Linked DNA regions of Homo sapiens. The protein of the gene in region 2 interacts with the protein of the main gene of each other region in a pairwise test. Each region holds a gene or a part of one and is shown on either strand. Other genes may lie near its edges.

The links. The genes of interacting proteins can lie anywhere in the genome.
Region 1: the proteins of NFIX (region 2) and QRICH1 interact in binary tests that used the Homo sapiens proteins (3 or more experiments, as listed by UniProt).

Annotation. Positions count from the first base shown.
Region 1 is NC_000003.12:49,029,207-49,036,038, forward strand, and holds the end of QRICH1 (transcriptional regulator QRICH1), read right to left. Parts: intron 4,023-6,832; coding exon 3,914-4,022; intron 3,568-3,913; coding exon 3,416-3,567; intron 3,068-3,415; coding exon 2,977-3,067; intron 1,439-2,976; coding exon 1,246-1,438; 3' UTR 501-1,245; downstream 1-500. Other genes in the region: IMPDH2 (inosine-5'-monophosphate dehydrogenase 2), read right to left, coding at 47-144. UniProt on the Homo sapiens protein: Transcriptional regulator that acts as a mediator of the integrated stress response (ISR) through transcriptional control of protein homeostasis under conditions of ER stress.
Region 2 is NC_000019.10:12,990,593-12,999,532, reverse strand, and holds the start of NFIX (nuclear factor 1 X-type), read right to left. Parts: upstream 4,059-8,940; 5' UTR 3,696-4,058; coding exon 3,669-3,695; intron 1-3,668.

The DNA of each region.
Region 1 (6,832 bases), on a different chromosome or scaffold from region 2:
GGGTGCCGCCCCTCTCTTCGCCCAGGTGAGCCCCATAGGCCCGCACTTGTAGGTGAGGCCGTCTCCGCAGTTGAAGAGCTGCTGTGCTGTGAGTCCGTCGTCTGGCACGTAGGACGTGCCCCCACTAATCAGGTAGTCGGCCATGGCCAACACAGGACACCGCCGCGTGTCTCCGAGGACCGCGCCGCAGAGACCTCTGCCGTCTGGGCCGCGCCAATATAAACCAGCCGATTTCGTCACTGCGCTGCGCGCGACGCTGACGTCAGGGCGTAGTGCGCGCGGGCGGAACCTACCCGCCTCGCTGCGGCGGGGGCGGAGCTGGCGCTGAAGAAACAGCGCATGCGTATAGCACATAGTGGCCTTGTCACTGAGGAGCTGCCACTTCACGTCCCACCCCACACTCCCCGCAGGACCTCGGCCAGTTCAATTAACAGGCAAGGGTTTACTTCTACTGTCCCGCCGGGCTCCTCCCCAAAATAAAGAGACGTTGTTCACTAACATGTTGAAAAGACGTGCTTGTCATTCTTAATAAACAACTAGAGTAAGAATACATAAGAGAAACAGAGTGGTATCTTTATATGATACACAAGTGTATGTTACAAGAATTCCATCAGGCACAGGAGCCTCAGGTTTTAAGGCCTCAATGTTAGGCCAACAAAAAAAAAAAAGGCATGGTAAAGTTTTTACTTTTACATCTAAAATGTCACTTGTCATAAAGGAGGGTGTAATAGAAATTGTCTTTAATAAATCATAATTGAAGTTCCCCTCATTTTTCTTCCATTAAGATGCTAAGTTTATGTCTGATCATGAAGAAAGAAAAGAACATCGTTCCCCTGTGGTCAGCAAAGTCTGTCAGCCCAGTGGAAGTCGGCTGGGGAGATTCCCTCCAGGGTCCATCCATCATTAATTCCATCTCTCTTGAAGATGGAAAGGGGCCACATTTCTTTTCACAGTCCAAGCCCTTTCCCCAGGCCCCAGACAAAAAAGAGTCAGCCAGCAACTTTCTAGGACATATGACACTCAAGGAAACCCAGAGCCACCATCGGCTGAGGAGTCTGCCGCAGCAGGTTTATGAAGATGCAAAGGGGGCAAAGTTTTCTTTTATATTTTAAACAGAAGCAGCCTGAAAGGCTTCGTAACTACACCAATAAAAAAAAGAAAAAAAAAAATGGAGGCCTCTTCTTTAGTGTGAAAGTCTGTCTGGTTTTTCCTGGCTGGTTTCTCTTGTGCCATGGCCAAGGCATCTCAGTGCATAGTGCTTGCATTGGCCACTGCGATGGCCTCCTGAATTTCTCTTATCACCAGGATCCGCGTCAGCATTTGTCCCATCTGCTCTCTGCTGATAGGCTGGACTGAGTACCAGATTGGGCTGTTGGGGGCCACCACTGGCTCAGGTGTCAGGTAAAAGGTGTCATTCCGGCCTTTCACACTCTGGGGGCTGAAGAATATGCGGATAAAAGTTGGGTACCACCAATATAACTTCAACCCTCCCACCCTGAACTTCCCAGACAGATGCTGTCTGCAAACAGTAAGGCCCCAAGTTATTGTGGCACAGCTACTGAATTCCATGCAGCCACCACACACTACATCCTGGTCCTCCTTTGGGACTACTGCAAATCCCCCAAATGTTGGGTTACTTCCCCTCTGCCCCTCCTTCCCACAAACCAGCTGTGATCCATCACTGACTGCACCAGCCTAGGGCTCTCATGGACTCATGTGAGTCTATCCTTATCCTACTTGAAGCCAGCTTCACTGCTCAAAGCGTCTATCTCCAAGTCTTTGCGCTTTTTTTTTTTTTTTTTTTGAGATGGCGTCTTGTCTCCAGGCTGGAGTGCAGTGAGGTGATCTCAGCTCACTGCAACCTCCGCCCCCTTGGTTGAAGCGATTCTCCTGCCTCAGCCTCTGGAGTAGCTGGAACCATAGGCACGAGCCACCAAGCCCAGCTAATTTTTGTATTTTTTAGTAGAGATGGGGTTTTTCCATGTTGGCCAGGCTGGTCTCGAACTCCTGACCTCAGGTGATCCACCCACCTTGGCCTCCCAAAGTGCTTGGATTACAGGCGTGAGCCACGGTGCCCAGCCTCATGTTGTGTTTTCTACCCAATAATGATGGCCATTACAGTGGGGCCCTAAACTTGGGTTCACCCCCCTCCCCCGAACTGTGCTGTACCTCTATTAAGTACTTGGCATGCTGTATCCTCTAACAGTTATTCATCCATCCATTCAAGATTTATTCAAGGGTTACTAGTGCCAGGTCAGCACTAGGTGCTGATATTTAAAAAAATGGGCAGGAAAAGTATTTCCTACCCATGGAGCTTACAGATAGGAGGGGACACAGGTAGCAATTAAAGTTAAACAAATACAAAATAAAAAACAGTGATAAGTGCTACCGAGGAAACAGTCACAGGGAAGAGGTGGGGAATCTGGAAATGCTTCCCTGATAAGCTGTGTTTAAGTTGAGAAGAGGCATAATATGATGTCCTTGAGTGGAGAGGAGCTAGTGTGGCTAGGGAACTAAGAGCTCCACAGACATGAGGTTAGCAAGGGGGAGTGCATCAAAGGAGTTGTCTGCCATAAAAGAATTACTATGTAATGAGAAACCATTGAAGGGGCAAAAGGGAGAAAAAGCTGAGAGGAGTCTCACCTAGATTAATGATGGCAGTGACAAAAGGTCAAGGTCAGGAAGCAGGGCCATGCTCAATATGTGATGAAGGTAGATTCTCTGTACCTTCATACCCTTTTCATGAAAGGTGACTGTAGGGACCCGGGACCCCTTTTTCTATCAGTGCTAGGCACATCACACACCTTTGGAAAGCCAGAGCAAGGCTGCTTCTAAATTTAGCTTTCTGGAAGTGTTTTTACTTGGTTTGGGACTAGAGAATGCCTCTCCCCTATGATAAGTGATCACACAAGTGAGCATGCACACGCATACACACACATGCGCACACATGGACAGCAAGTCACAATAAAGCCTCACCATTTGAAGAGGTAGAAATCATAGAGCTTGATGGGACATCTCAATGGATTCTCTGGATTTTCCGTCTGTTCTGCATACATGTCATCTGTAACTATAAAACACACATCCCCACCACCACAGACCTGGCATCAGACTGCCTTACCTCAGGCCCAGATCAGGAAACTTAGGCTTTCAGCCAGCCCAACTAGGAAATACAGGGTCGGGGGAGGGAAGGTATGAGGCATGGGCAGTGACTACTAAGGGAAGAGGCAGCTATTCTGTCTGGGGCTTCTCTGCTTCTAGGAGGAAAGTTTGGAATTTTTGGCTGGGGAGAAGGGAGTGGAGAATTTTATCCAGCAAATCCCAACCTTTACACTTATCACTAGCCTCACAGGCACAAGGGCAGGACAGGGCAGGACAAGTAGCACCTGTTTTTGCCATCCCTGCCTCCTTTCCCTACCTTTCTGGCCAGTCTGGTGTATTCCAAGGGCCTTCAAGTACCGGATACTCGTGCTTTTATCCTTGGGATTAGAGGGGTTCTTCTTTGTCTGTCGCAAGACCTTGGAGAAGGCCAGCTTCATGTGCTGGTCCACTGTCTTCAATAGGAAGTACCTGGATCACAAGTAAAATGCAAGGCAGAGGGAGGGGTGCCGGGAGGATACCATGACTCATCCTCTGCCCACTGGTGCTTCAGAGGAGCCACTGCCCACATTCCCAAGATCTGGGCAGGCCCGTACCCAAGCAGTGTCCAGTGCAGGAACCACATCAAGATGGATGGTAGGGGTCTGGCAAGGGTGTTTGCCTCACTGGTTACCAAATAAAATGCAGCCAAGTGGGGTTAGGGCTTTCAGTAGCCCAGTTTCTCAAATATATGTCAGAGGAATTCAGAAGGCCTCTTGGATAGCTTCCACACTCTTCACTGGACAGATGCCAGCAGTGGAGCCTCTAGAACACTTACTTGGTATTAAAGAACATGAGGGTGGTCAGCAAGGTGGAGGGGGAGTGAGCCCCAAGCTGCTTGCACTCCCATAGCATCTCCTCAGTCACGTGGCTGGGCAAGACATAGCCTAGGAGGAATAGAGTACTGTCACAACAAGAGGATGGCAGGTGGTCTCTCAAAGGTACAATATGGGATGTGTGAAGCATAAGGACCACACAGGAGTATAAATTTCATCAGGGGACTCTCCCTAAAGTGTGGCAAAAATCATCTGGAAAGCTTCTTAAAACACAGATAGCTGGGTCCCAATCTGTTTCTGAGGTGGAACCTGATGATGAGCACTTCTAACACCACACTTGAGAACCACAGCCTTACATGATTGTTGTTACCCTCTAATCCAAGGCTAACACAGGGCAAAAAGACTGCCCTCAGAGACAGTGAAGTACAGAAAACTATAAACCAAACTCTGCATATATGCATAATTCTCTGAGAGTGTACAGAGCTTTGCATATTTTCAAAGGTGGTCCAGGACCCAAAGAACTGGCATGCACGCCCGTTTGCCCTTACCAAGTCTTCTCTCATCTCAACTGTCTCTAAAAAGCAAGGCCGGCCAGGCGCAGTGGCTGATGCCTGTAATCCCAGCACTTTGGAAGGCCGAGGCGGGTGGATCACGAGGTCAGGAGATTGAGACCATCCTGGCCAATATGGTGAAACCCCGTCTCTACTAAAAACACAAAAAATAGCCGGGTGTGGTGGCGGGCTCCTGTAGTCCCAGCTAATCGGGAGGCTGAGACAGGAGAATGGTGTGAACCCAGAAGGTGGAGCTTGCAGTGAGCCGAGATTGCACCACTGCACTCCAGCCTCGGCAACAGAGCGAGACTCCCATCTCAAAAACAAAAAAACAAAAAAACAAAAAAAACAAAAAAAACGGCTATTGTCATTTCTTCTCTAGATAAAGAGACTGATACTCTTTGGGGGATTTTATTATTATTATTATTATTATTATTATTAGCTAAGATACAGGGTCTCTTCTACAATATTTATCTTTTTTTAAAAAAGGAAGACCAGGCATGGTGGCTCACGCCTGTAATCCGAGAACTTTGGGAGGCGGAGGTGGGAGAATTGTTTGAGCCCAAGAGTTGAAGACCAGCCTGGGCAACATAGCCAGACCTCATCTCCACTGAAAATCAAAAAAATTAGTCGTGTGATGGTGCACATCTGTGATCCCAGCTACCAGGGAGGCTGAGGTGGGAGGATTCCTTGGGCCTGGGAGGTCAAGGCTGCAGTGAGCCGTGATCGCACCACTGTACTTAAGCCTGGGTGACAGAGTGAGATCCTGTCTCAAAAAAAAAAAAAAGGGAAAAAAAAGAGATGGGGTTTCGCTCTGTCACCCAAGCTAGAGTACAGTGACACAATCATGGCTAACTGCAGCCTTGAGCTCTTGGACTCAAAGACTCCTCCTGCCAGTTTCCTGAGCAGTTAGAAATACAGGCGTGAACCACCACGCCTAGCCAATATGCCAGTATTTGAACTATTACAAGATCCCCCCCACAGGGCTGGTGTTACTGTAAGACCCTGGTTCATAAGTGAGCCCAGAGCTAGGTACAGGCAAAGGTCAATAATTTGAATAAGAGCCCTGGTCAGCCAGGTCTGCACCAAAGAAAGATGACATTTGAATGACTACCAAGCCCCTTCATGTGCTGAAGTCAGTCAGTATGCACATGTTTGTGCACTGGGTGCATAATGAGATAGGAGCAGGCAACAGTATTCTCCTGCAGGGTTTCGGGATTCTCCAAGCAAGCACAGTGTGTGACACTTCCTGGAAGCAGAAAAAAGAACATTCTGCCCGATACACTCCTCTTCTGTGTTCTATGCTCTTGCCAAAACAAAGCTGGCTCTCTAATAGTGCATTTCCATCTCTTTAAGGCAGTTCTGACTCTATTTTTTGTCTACTTTTCGGCTATTTTGTGACCCAGTGGCAATGGGAAAAGCTTTTCTGCTCTTAGACATATCTGAAGCCCCCAAGATCCAGGATGAGCAGAAAACAGCCCTTCTCAGCAAAGAAGGATTCAAGGAATCCTCTCACCTCAGCCTCCCTAGTAGCTGGGATCACAGGTGTGCACCATCACACTCGATTATTTTTTTTGATTTTTAGTGGAGATGAGGTCTTGCTATGTTGCCCAGGCTGGTCTTCAAATCTTGGGCTGAAGCAATTCTCCTACCTCGGCCTACCAAAGTTCTGGGATTACAGGCGGGAGCCACCATGCCTGGCCTTCCTTTTCTTAAAAAAATAATTTTTCTCCTGGGAACAATTATTGCCATACTTTGGCATGTTCCACTTCTCTGGGTTCGCTCTGTCACTTGCTCCCTCTGATGTCACTTCCCTAATTTTATTCTCTTCTCTACAATTTGTAATAAACTTGGCTGGGTGTGGTTACTCATGTCTATAATCTCAGCACATTGGGAAGCCAAGGTAGGAGGACTGCTTGAACCCAGGAGTTCAAGACCAGCCTGGGCAACATAGGGAGACCCTGTCAATACAAAAACCTTAAAAAAAAAAACAAAAAAAAACAGCTGAGTGCAATGGCTTGAGCCTGGGTCCCAGCCCGAGCCCAACAGGGTGAGGCAGCAGTGAACTATCATCATGACATTGTACTCCAGCCTGGGAGACAAAGCAAGACCCTGTAAGAAAAACTAAAATAGCCTGGGCATGGTGGCTCATGGGTGTAACCTTGGGAGGCCAAGGCAGGTGGATCACTGGAACCTAGGAGTTTGAGACCAGCCTAGACAACATGGCAAAACCCCATTTCTACAAAAAAAAAAAAAAAAACAAAAACTAGCCAGGTGTGGTGGTATGCACCTGCAGTCCCAGCTACTTGGGAAGCTGAGAGGTAGAAGGATTGCTTCAGCCCAGGAGGTAGAAGTTGCAGTGAGGCAAGA
Region 2 (8,940 bases):
CGCATTGGTGCATATTTGTGTGTGTGTGTGTGTGTGTGTGTGTGTTTGAAAAGGTATTTGTGGCCGGGTGCAGTGGCTCATGCCTGTAATCCCAGCACTTTGGGAGGCCGAGGCAGGTGGATCACGAGGTCAGAAGTTCAAGACCAGCCGGGCCAAGATGGTGAAACCCCATCTTCACTAAAAAATACAGAAATTACCCGGGCGTGGTGGCGGGCACCTGTAATCCCAGCTACTCGGGAAGCTGAGGCAGAGAATTGCTTGAACCCGGGAGGCAGAGGTTACAGTGAGCCGAGATCACGCCACTGCACTCCAACCTGGGCGACAGAGCAAGGCTCCGTCTCAAAAAAAAAAAAAATAGAAAAAGAAAAGTTATTTGTGTACACACCTGAGCGAGCCAACTGCATTATGTCTCTGTGTAAAGATGTGTATCCATCCATCCGCCTGTCCGTCCTTGGGTCCATGTGAGCATGTGTGGGGGTGAACACACATTTGTGTCTACCTGTATCCAAGCATGTGCTCAGGGCTCCATGAGTCTGGGAGGTGTCGTGGTCTCCATGTGCCTTCGTCGCTATCTGTATCATCTCGAGGGGTTTGTGAGTGTTTATGTGTGCGCTGGGGGTGGTTGTGAACACAAGTCCACAGTTTCCTGTGTCCATACGTGCGTCAAAGAGGTACTGCTGTGTCGCTAAGCCTACACCAATATACGTGTCCCATTTCAAGAGGTGCGTGTGTGTTAATGGGTGTGTGTGACAGTGTGAACACAAGTCGTCGGTTTCCTGTGTCCGTAGGTCTGTAGGCTCGTCGATGGTCGTGGGTCTGGACATCGGTGTGAACAGGACACTTACATCCCCATCTTGGCGGTGATGGTGGTGTACGTGAGTTCACATCCTGGTTGTGTCTCTGTTTCTTGGCAGGGTTGGGATGGGGATGGGGGTCCATCCATCCACCCCCCACCCCTCTCTCCGCCTGAGACTCAGGACTGTGGCTACAATGGACTCCAGCAGCTCCAGGAACCGCCCCACCCGGCCGCCCTGAATTTCGATGCTTTTTCTAGAAGGAGATTTTTCCCCCCGCCCTTCCCCCTCGCCCACAGTACCTTTCCCCGCCAGGGCCCCGCTGCTCCAAGCTCGTTCCTGCTCAATCATTTATTGACTTTAAAATCGAAGCCAATTCTGGTTTGAAAAAAAGAAAAGGGAGAGAGAGAGAGGGAAAGAGAGAGAGGCAGGCCAGAGAGACAGAGAGAGAGAGAGTCCGAGACGCCAGTGGAGGGGGGAGCAGAGATGGGGCCAAAACTGGAATCAGAGACAGAGACAGTCAGAGACATACAAAAGGACAGAGATGGAGAAAGAGAGATGGAAAAGGGCAGAATACACCAGAGACCGATAAAAACAGACCGAGAAAAAGACAGCAAAGGAAAGAGGTTGTCATAAAAACAGAGACCAGCGGGGCAAACCATGGAAGCAGAAAGATTTGTAAAAACAGAGATGTGATTGTTAGGGAGGGGCAGGCCAGACCCCACTGACCAGCCGACAGCAGCCACCTGCCCAGAGCTGAAGGGTTTCCCTGCCCACCATGAAGGGCTGGCAGCCTGGAGACACCATGCCCACTCCCCTCTCCAGCCATCCTGGCACACTGGAACTGTCGTAACCTGGGCCTACAATCACACAGAGCCAAGCACCGGCCATCGCCCTGGGTCTCGCAGCCGCCCCAGCCCCTTCCTAGCCATGTCACCGGCGTATCCACAGGCATTTTCTCTCCCAGGGTGCTGTGAAATCTGAGGGGCTGGTGTCTCACCCAAGCCATGGGGGAGCAGGCTCAGATGTCTGGCGTGCTTGGCATGGGAGGCCGGGCTGGCAGCCTGGTGGGCAAGGGGCTGCTTGAGCGTGGGGTCTTGGTTCCACTAGGCCCCAAACATCGGCCACACAGCCCAGCCAAGTGTAGCACCAAAGAGGCCCAGCTCAGACACCGCTGGGTAGGCAGTTGTTGTGAGGGGCGCCCAACATGGAGTGGCCGTGGAACTGGAGGTGCAGATGTGGGGGTTCCCCACACTGCCATGGTGCTCAGGGTGCCTGCTCACACCTGCATGCACACTGCAACATGTATGCATGCCGGTGCGCCCTCGCCAACACGTACTTGGGCCTGCTTTCTACAGGAAAACCCGCTCCCTGGGCCACACACACGGCCATGCCACGCAGGCCTGCCCATGGCCGGCCCACAGGGGCTACACACAGACTCTAGATTGATTCACACTTGCATACACTCTCACCTGTGCATACAGGAGTGTGGTGTAGCCACAGCTGACACACACCCCGACAAACCCCTCGCCCCTTGACACCACTGCACACTCCCGGTAGGACCCAGACAAAGTAGGAGCCATACCCATGTGGACTGCCACTGTAAGCTGTGGACACACTTGGCACATGGCTGACAAGGATCAGGCTGGGCAGAGGGGACAATTAGGGCCTGGCCTAGAGAACCCCCACATGCAGGCCTGGCTGGCAGCAGGGCTAAGCAGCCCCTAGATGTCCCCTCTTCGGAGACTGTTACCAGCTGTGGCTTGGCCCTGCAGGCAACGCTGTCAGGGCCACTGTGGGACTCTGGGCAGCTTCTGTGCCCTCTTAGAGCCTCAGGCCACAGCCCAGGGAGAGTTGGGTGGCCCGACAGGCATCCTCGAAGCTTTTGCCGCAGCCGTGCGCCGCGCAGGGAACTTCGCTGCAGGCGGGACGCGCTCTAGCAACGCGCCAAGGTCGGCGCTGTTGTGCCCGAGGCTGACCCGACGGTGTGGCCGCAGCACTGTCGGCTGTGTCCACGGCTGCCTCCCGCCCCTCCCGCCTCCAGGCGACGGGACGGGATTCCCCAGGCCTGCCGGGTCCACTCCGCAGCAGCCCGGGTCGCTGGGGCCAGAAAGTTTGCGCCGAGGAAAGTTTGGGGGTGGGGGGGCAGAGGCTGCGACGTCCGGGGTCGGAGAGGCGCGGCCACCGCTGGCAGCGCGCCCGCCCCCCTCTCCCCTCCCCTGCCCCTCCGAAATTTGGGAGCCCCGCCATTTTCTTAGCCCCGCTCCCATGTGAGGCCTAAACAAAGACTTTGGGGAGACGCCCGGGCCGCTCGGCCCACCCCAGGCACCCCGGCCGCACGCAAGGGCCGCCGCCACGCACGCCGGCCACTGCCACCCTCGGGAACCGCTGCGCCCTCCCCAGGAAGCGTCGCGGGACCCAGTGTCCCCTCTGCGCCCTCGGGACCACCCTCTTGCCACTCTGTCAACCCCGCAAACACTGCCAGCGACCACGCTGCCCGGGTGCGCGCTACAGTAGCCCACAGGTCAGCCGGAGTCCCGCTGCCCATCGCACCCCAGTCGAGCGCGCACACACACACACACACACACACACACACGTACACGCACTCCCGCCTGCGCTCCACGGGCAGCGCCACGACGCAGCTGGCCACCCCCGGAACCCCCAAAAGGAGTCCGCCCGGTGGCCAGGGTCGCACGCGCACGGTGACGCCCGCACGCGTGCCTGGGCTCCCCGCGGCACAGCCTGCACCCCTCGGCGGCCCGCGGGCTCTCGGCCCCCCCTTCCCGGCCGCCGCGCGTCCCCTCCGCCCGCGCCGCCGGCCGGCCTCCCGCGCCCGCTCCCCTCCCCCGGTCGCGCGGGGGCGGCGGCCGGTACCTGGGTGAGGCAGTACGGGGAGTACATAGCTGGGCGCCCGGGCGGGAGCGCGGCGGCCGGCCGCGGCGAGGGGAGGCCCGGCAGGCGGCGGCCGCGCTCGGGCTCGGGCTCCGGCTCGGCTCCTCCGGCCTCCGCCGCGCTGCGCCCGCCCGGCCCGCGGCCCCGCGCTCGGCCCGGCGCCGCTCCGCGCTCGCCGCTCGCAAGCTCGGCCCCGCCGGCTCCGGGGCCGCCGCTGCCGCCGCCGCCGCCGCGCTCGCCGCTGCCTCTCGCGTCCGCCGCCGCCGCCGCTGCCGCCGCGCGTCTACTCCATGCCGCCGCCGCTCGGCCGGTCACCCTCGCCCGCCGCCGCCGCCGCCGCAGCCGCCGCGCTGTGAAAGTGAAAGTTTAGACAAAGTTTGGAAGCGGCGCACTCCGGGGAGAGGGAGCGGGCGGGCGGCGCGGGCGGGAGGAGGGGCGCGGGGAGGGGCGGGCAGGGCGGGGGAGCGGCGGCCGGCGCACACACACAAGCACACACATGCACACACACACACGAACACACGCACACGCGCGCGCGGGGGCGCACACCGACGCGGCCGCCCTGACACGTGCTGGCCCGCGTTCCAGCGCAGACACACGCTGACACGCAGCGGGACTCGGACCCCGCCACACATGTCACGTCCAGAACGCCTGGCCACACGTTCCGCCTTCGAACACAAAGCACACTCGGACACCAGTGCACACAAGGCACAGACACACAACCCCTACACACGGGCACACACACACAGCAGTCTGGGAAAACACCCACGACCCACGCTCTGACATGCACCGTCCCACCATGGTATCCAGGCACACAACAAGGAACCGCGTATAGACATACACCAAAGCAGGCGTCACGTAGACACACACTGATATACACGAAGACACACCAGTGCATGACACATAGAGATGCACACTGATGCACACACACTGACGCATGTTCCTGCAGAACACAGACACATGCAAGATCACACAGCCACACGCTGACACCTTCCAGACACACAATTCCTACACGCAGACACATACACAACACACACACATCGCAGTGCCAGAACACACTGGCAGTTGTGGCAGTACACCCCGATGTACAGAATGACACTGATGATTGAGAGGCCGAGGCCAGTGGATTGCTTGAGCTCAGGAGTTCAAGACCAGCCTGGACAACATGGCAAAACCCCTCTCTACCAAAAATACAAAAATTAGCTGGGTGTGGTGGTGGATGCCTGTGGTCCCAGCTACTTAGGAGGCTGAAGTGGGGGGATCCCTTGAGCCCGGGGAGGTCAAGGGTGCAGTGAGCCATGATAGTGCCATTGCACTCCAACCTGGGTGACAGAGCAAGACCCTGTCTGAAAAAAAATAACTAAATAAATAAGATGACACTAATGAAGGGAAGATACACAATGTCACATAAACACACACCAAACACCTGGAAGTGAATGCAAAGGACCCCAATACAAAGAGATACACAGCGTCACAGATACAAAGCAACACTGGCTGTCACAACACAACACACAGACACACACACACACACACACACTGGGTTGCCCAGATGTACCCACAGGCCTTGGACACACTGACCAACTGATGCCCAGGCGGCTGACAACCCCCCTGGGAGAATCATCTAGCCATGCACACAGGGATCACACACATACACCCATGTCCCTTACGTGCCCCCCCCCCAACACACTTGTAATGTGGCCCTGATCATCGACATAGGCAAATATAGCAGGAGACCCACAGCTCAGCTGTCAGGGACAGAATTGGGCATCAGGGCCTCCGTACATGTACACACACACACACACACTTTGGTGAGGTTCCAGCCCCTCTTGCGGGCCCTGACTCCTCATTTTCAGAACATAAAGGCCTGGGGGGAGAGGTAGTGCTGGGGACCCTGGAGCAAGGGGAGAGGAAGCCCTCTGGTAACCCTCAGGGTGGGTGGGGAGGCAGTGCCTACAGCCCCCAGGCAGCTCCTGCTGAGACAAAACACCCGCCTGCTGCCAGGTGCAACCAGCACCTTCTTGCTCTCTTGGGCCAAAAAGCTGTGGCAATTCTCAGCTATGCATTGTCTGTTAAAGGGGGTGTCAGTGCCCAGGGCGGGGGGTGCGCACGCACACAGGGTTGGCTGTGCCCATTGGGCTCTTGCAAGCAGGCACAAAAGTATGCATGTGTACGTGAGTATGTGTGTAAATGTCCCAGAAACGATATGCTCCTTGTCACAATACTGTATTAGGCTGTGTGGCAGGCAGTGTGTCTGTGGGTGTCTAGATGGGTCTGGTGTCTTCCGGGGACACTGAAGAAATGCAGGTCATGATAGGTGCAAGAGTCTGGCTGGGCGTGGTGGCTCATACCTATAATCCCAGCAATTTGGGAGGCCGAAGCGGGTGGATCACCTGAGGTCAGGAGTTTGAGACCAGCCTGGCCAATATGGTGAAACCCTGTCTCTACTAAAAATAAAAAACTTAGCTGGGCGTGGTGGGATGCCTGTAATCCCAGCTACTAGGGAGGCTGAGGCAGGAGAATCGCTTGAACCTGGGAGGCAGAGGCTGCAGTAAGCCAAGACCATACCACTGCACTCCAGCCTGGGGAACAGAGCAAGACTCTGTCTCAAAACGAAAGAGAGAGAAAGGGAGAGCTCACGCCTGTAATCCCAGCACTTTGGGAGGCCAAGGCAGGCAGATCATGAGGTCAAGAGATCGAGACCATCATGGCCAACATGGTGAAACCCCGTCTCTACTAAAAATACAAAAATTAGCTGGGTGTGGTGGCGTGTACCTGTAGTCCCAGCTACTCGGGAGGCTGAGGCCGGAGATCACTTGAACTCAGGAGGCGGAAGTTGCAGCGAGCTGAGATCGCGCCACTGCACTCCTGCCTGGTGACAGAACGACACTCCATCTATAAATAAATAAATAAATAAATAAATAAATAAATAAATAATAAAAATTTTAAAAAACAAAGCAAGAATCTTTTTGTGTGGATCTGTATGTTGTGCAGCAGAGACTGGGTCTGACTTTGTACTTAAGGTGTCATGAGGCAGAGAAGGTGCCTGCCCGGTCCTATACCAAGCACTGGGGACATGGTGGGGGAAGAAAATAAAGACCATGGCCAGGCGTGGTGGCTCATGCCTATAATCCCAGCACCTTGGGAGGCCGAGGCAGGCAGATCACCTGAGGTCAGGAGCTCGAGACCAGACTCACCAACATGGTGAAACCCCATCTCTACTAAAAATATAAAATTTAGCCGGGCATGGTAGCAGGCGCCTATAATCCCAGCTACTCAGGAGGCTGAGGCAGAATTGCTTGAACCTAGGAGGCAGAGGTTGCGGTGAGCCGAGATCGAACCACTGCACTCCAGACTGAGCAACAGAGCAAGGCTCTATCTCAAAAAAAAGAAAAGAAAAAAAGAAAAAGAGAGAGAGAGAGAAAGAAACAAAGGAAAGAAAGAAAGAAGGAAGAGGAGGGAAGGAAAGGAAGGAAGGAAGAAAGGAAAGAAAGAAAGAAAAGAAAAAGAAAAAGAGAAAGGAAGAAAGAAAGAAAAGAAAAAGAAAGAAAAAGAAAAGCAAGCAAGCAAGCAAGCAAACACCAGCCGGGCACGGTGGCTCACACCTGTAATCCCAGCACTTTGGGAGGCCGAGGCGGGTGGTCAGGAGATCGAGACCATCATGGCTAACACGGTGAAACCCCGTCTCTACTAAAAATACAAAACATTAGCCAGGCATGGTGGCGGGCGCCTGTAATCCCAGCTACTTGGGAGGCTGAGGCAGGAGAATGGCGTGAACCCGGGAGGCGGAGCTTGCAGTGAGCCGAGATCACGCCACTGCACTTCAGCCTGGGCGACAGAGCGAGACTCCGTCTCAAAAAAAAAAAGTGTCAGTGTAGGCCGGATGCGGTGGCTCATGCCTATAATCCCAGCACTTCAGGAGTCTGAAATGGGCAGATTGCTTGAGGTCAGGAGTTCAAGACCAGCTTGGCAACATGATGAGATTCCATCTCTACAAAAAATACAAAAAAAAAAAAAAAAAAAAAAAAGCCAGGCGTGGTGGTGCGTGCCTGTGGTCTCAGCTACTCCAAAAGCTGAGGTGGAAGGATGGCTTGAGCTCAGGGGGCGGAGGTTGCAGTGAGCCATGATCGCGCCACTGCACTCCAGCCTGGACAACAGTGCAGTGTCAGTGTATATGGGTCTGTGTGTGTGTGTGTCTTGAAGTGTGATCACGTGAGTGACTGTGCAAGGGTCCCAGTGGGTCTGGGACCTGCTTGCAAGAGCCCAATGGGCATAGCCAGCCCTGTTTGTGATCAGGGTCTGTGGGGCAGAAAGTGTCAATGGGTGTCACTAGGTGTGTGTTTTGCTATGTGGACCTAGGGCGGTGATGAGGATCTTTGTGTACCAGGGTGTGTACACAGGTGCTCAGGAGTGTCAGGGATCAGGGCTGTCAGGACATGGGGGCTCTGTGTGACAAGGATGTGAGCCTGTGTGTGTCAGGCCATGCCAGAGAGTGTGTGTAGCCATGCGTGTGTGCATGTTTGTGTGTGTGAGAGAGAGCGAGAGCGAGGCCATGTCGGTGTGTGTGTCTGTGTATGAGGGAGGAGGTCTCTGTGTGTCCAGATACATGTGTCTGTGTGTGTCAGGTCGTGTGTGTGTGTCTATGTGAGGCCATGTTAGTGTATGTGACTAGGTGTGTGTATGTGTGTGTGCCAGGGAAGGGGGAGTCCCTGTGAACCTGTATCAGAGATGTGAGTCTGTGTGTGTCAGGCCATGTCAATGTGTGTGTCTGTGAGGCCATATCAGTGTGTGTAACTAGGAGTGTATGTGTGTGTGGGTGGGTGTGTGTGGGTGGGTGTGTGTGTGTCAGGGAGGGGGGTCAATGTAAACCTGTGTCAGAGATGTGAGTCTGTGTGTGTGTCAGGCCATGTCGGTGTGTGTATACACACACTGGTGTATGCGTGTGTCAGTGTCAGGGAGGGGTCTCTGTGTGTCCTGATATGTGTGTCTGTGTCAGGCCATGTCTGTGTGTGACTAGCTGTGTGTGTGTGAGTGTATCAGGGATCGCGTCCCTGTGTGCCTGAGAGTGTGTCTGGGTAGGCGTGTATCTGTCATTCGGTGCTTGGGGGCCTCGGAACCCCGGCTCCCTCCAGTCTGGGCCTCCCCACTGTGCCTGAGGCCGCCACGCCACCGAGGCAAGGCTGTGGAGCAGGGAATCGATATGTCCTTAAAAATTCAAGGGTTTCTCGTAAACAGAAACTTTTAACACCGTTTAAAGTTT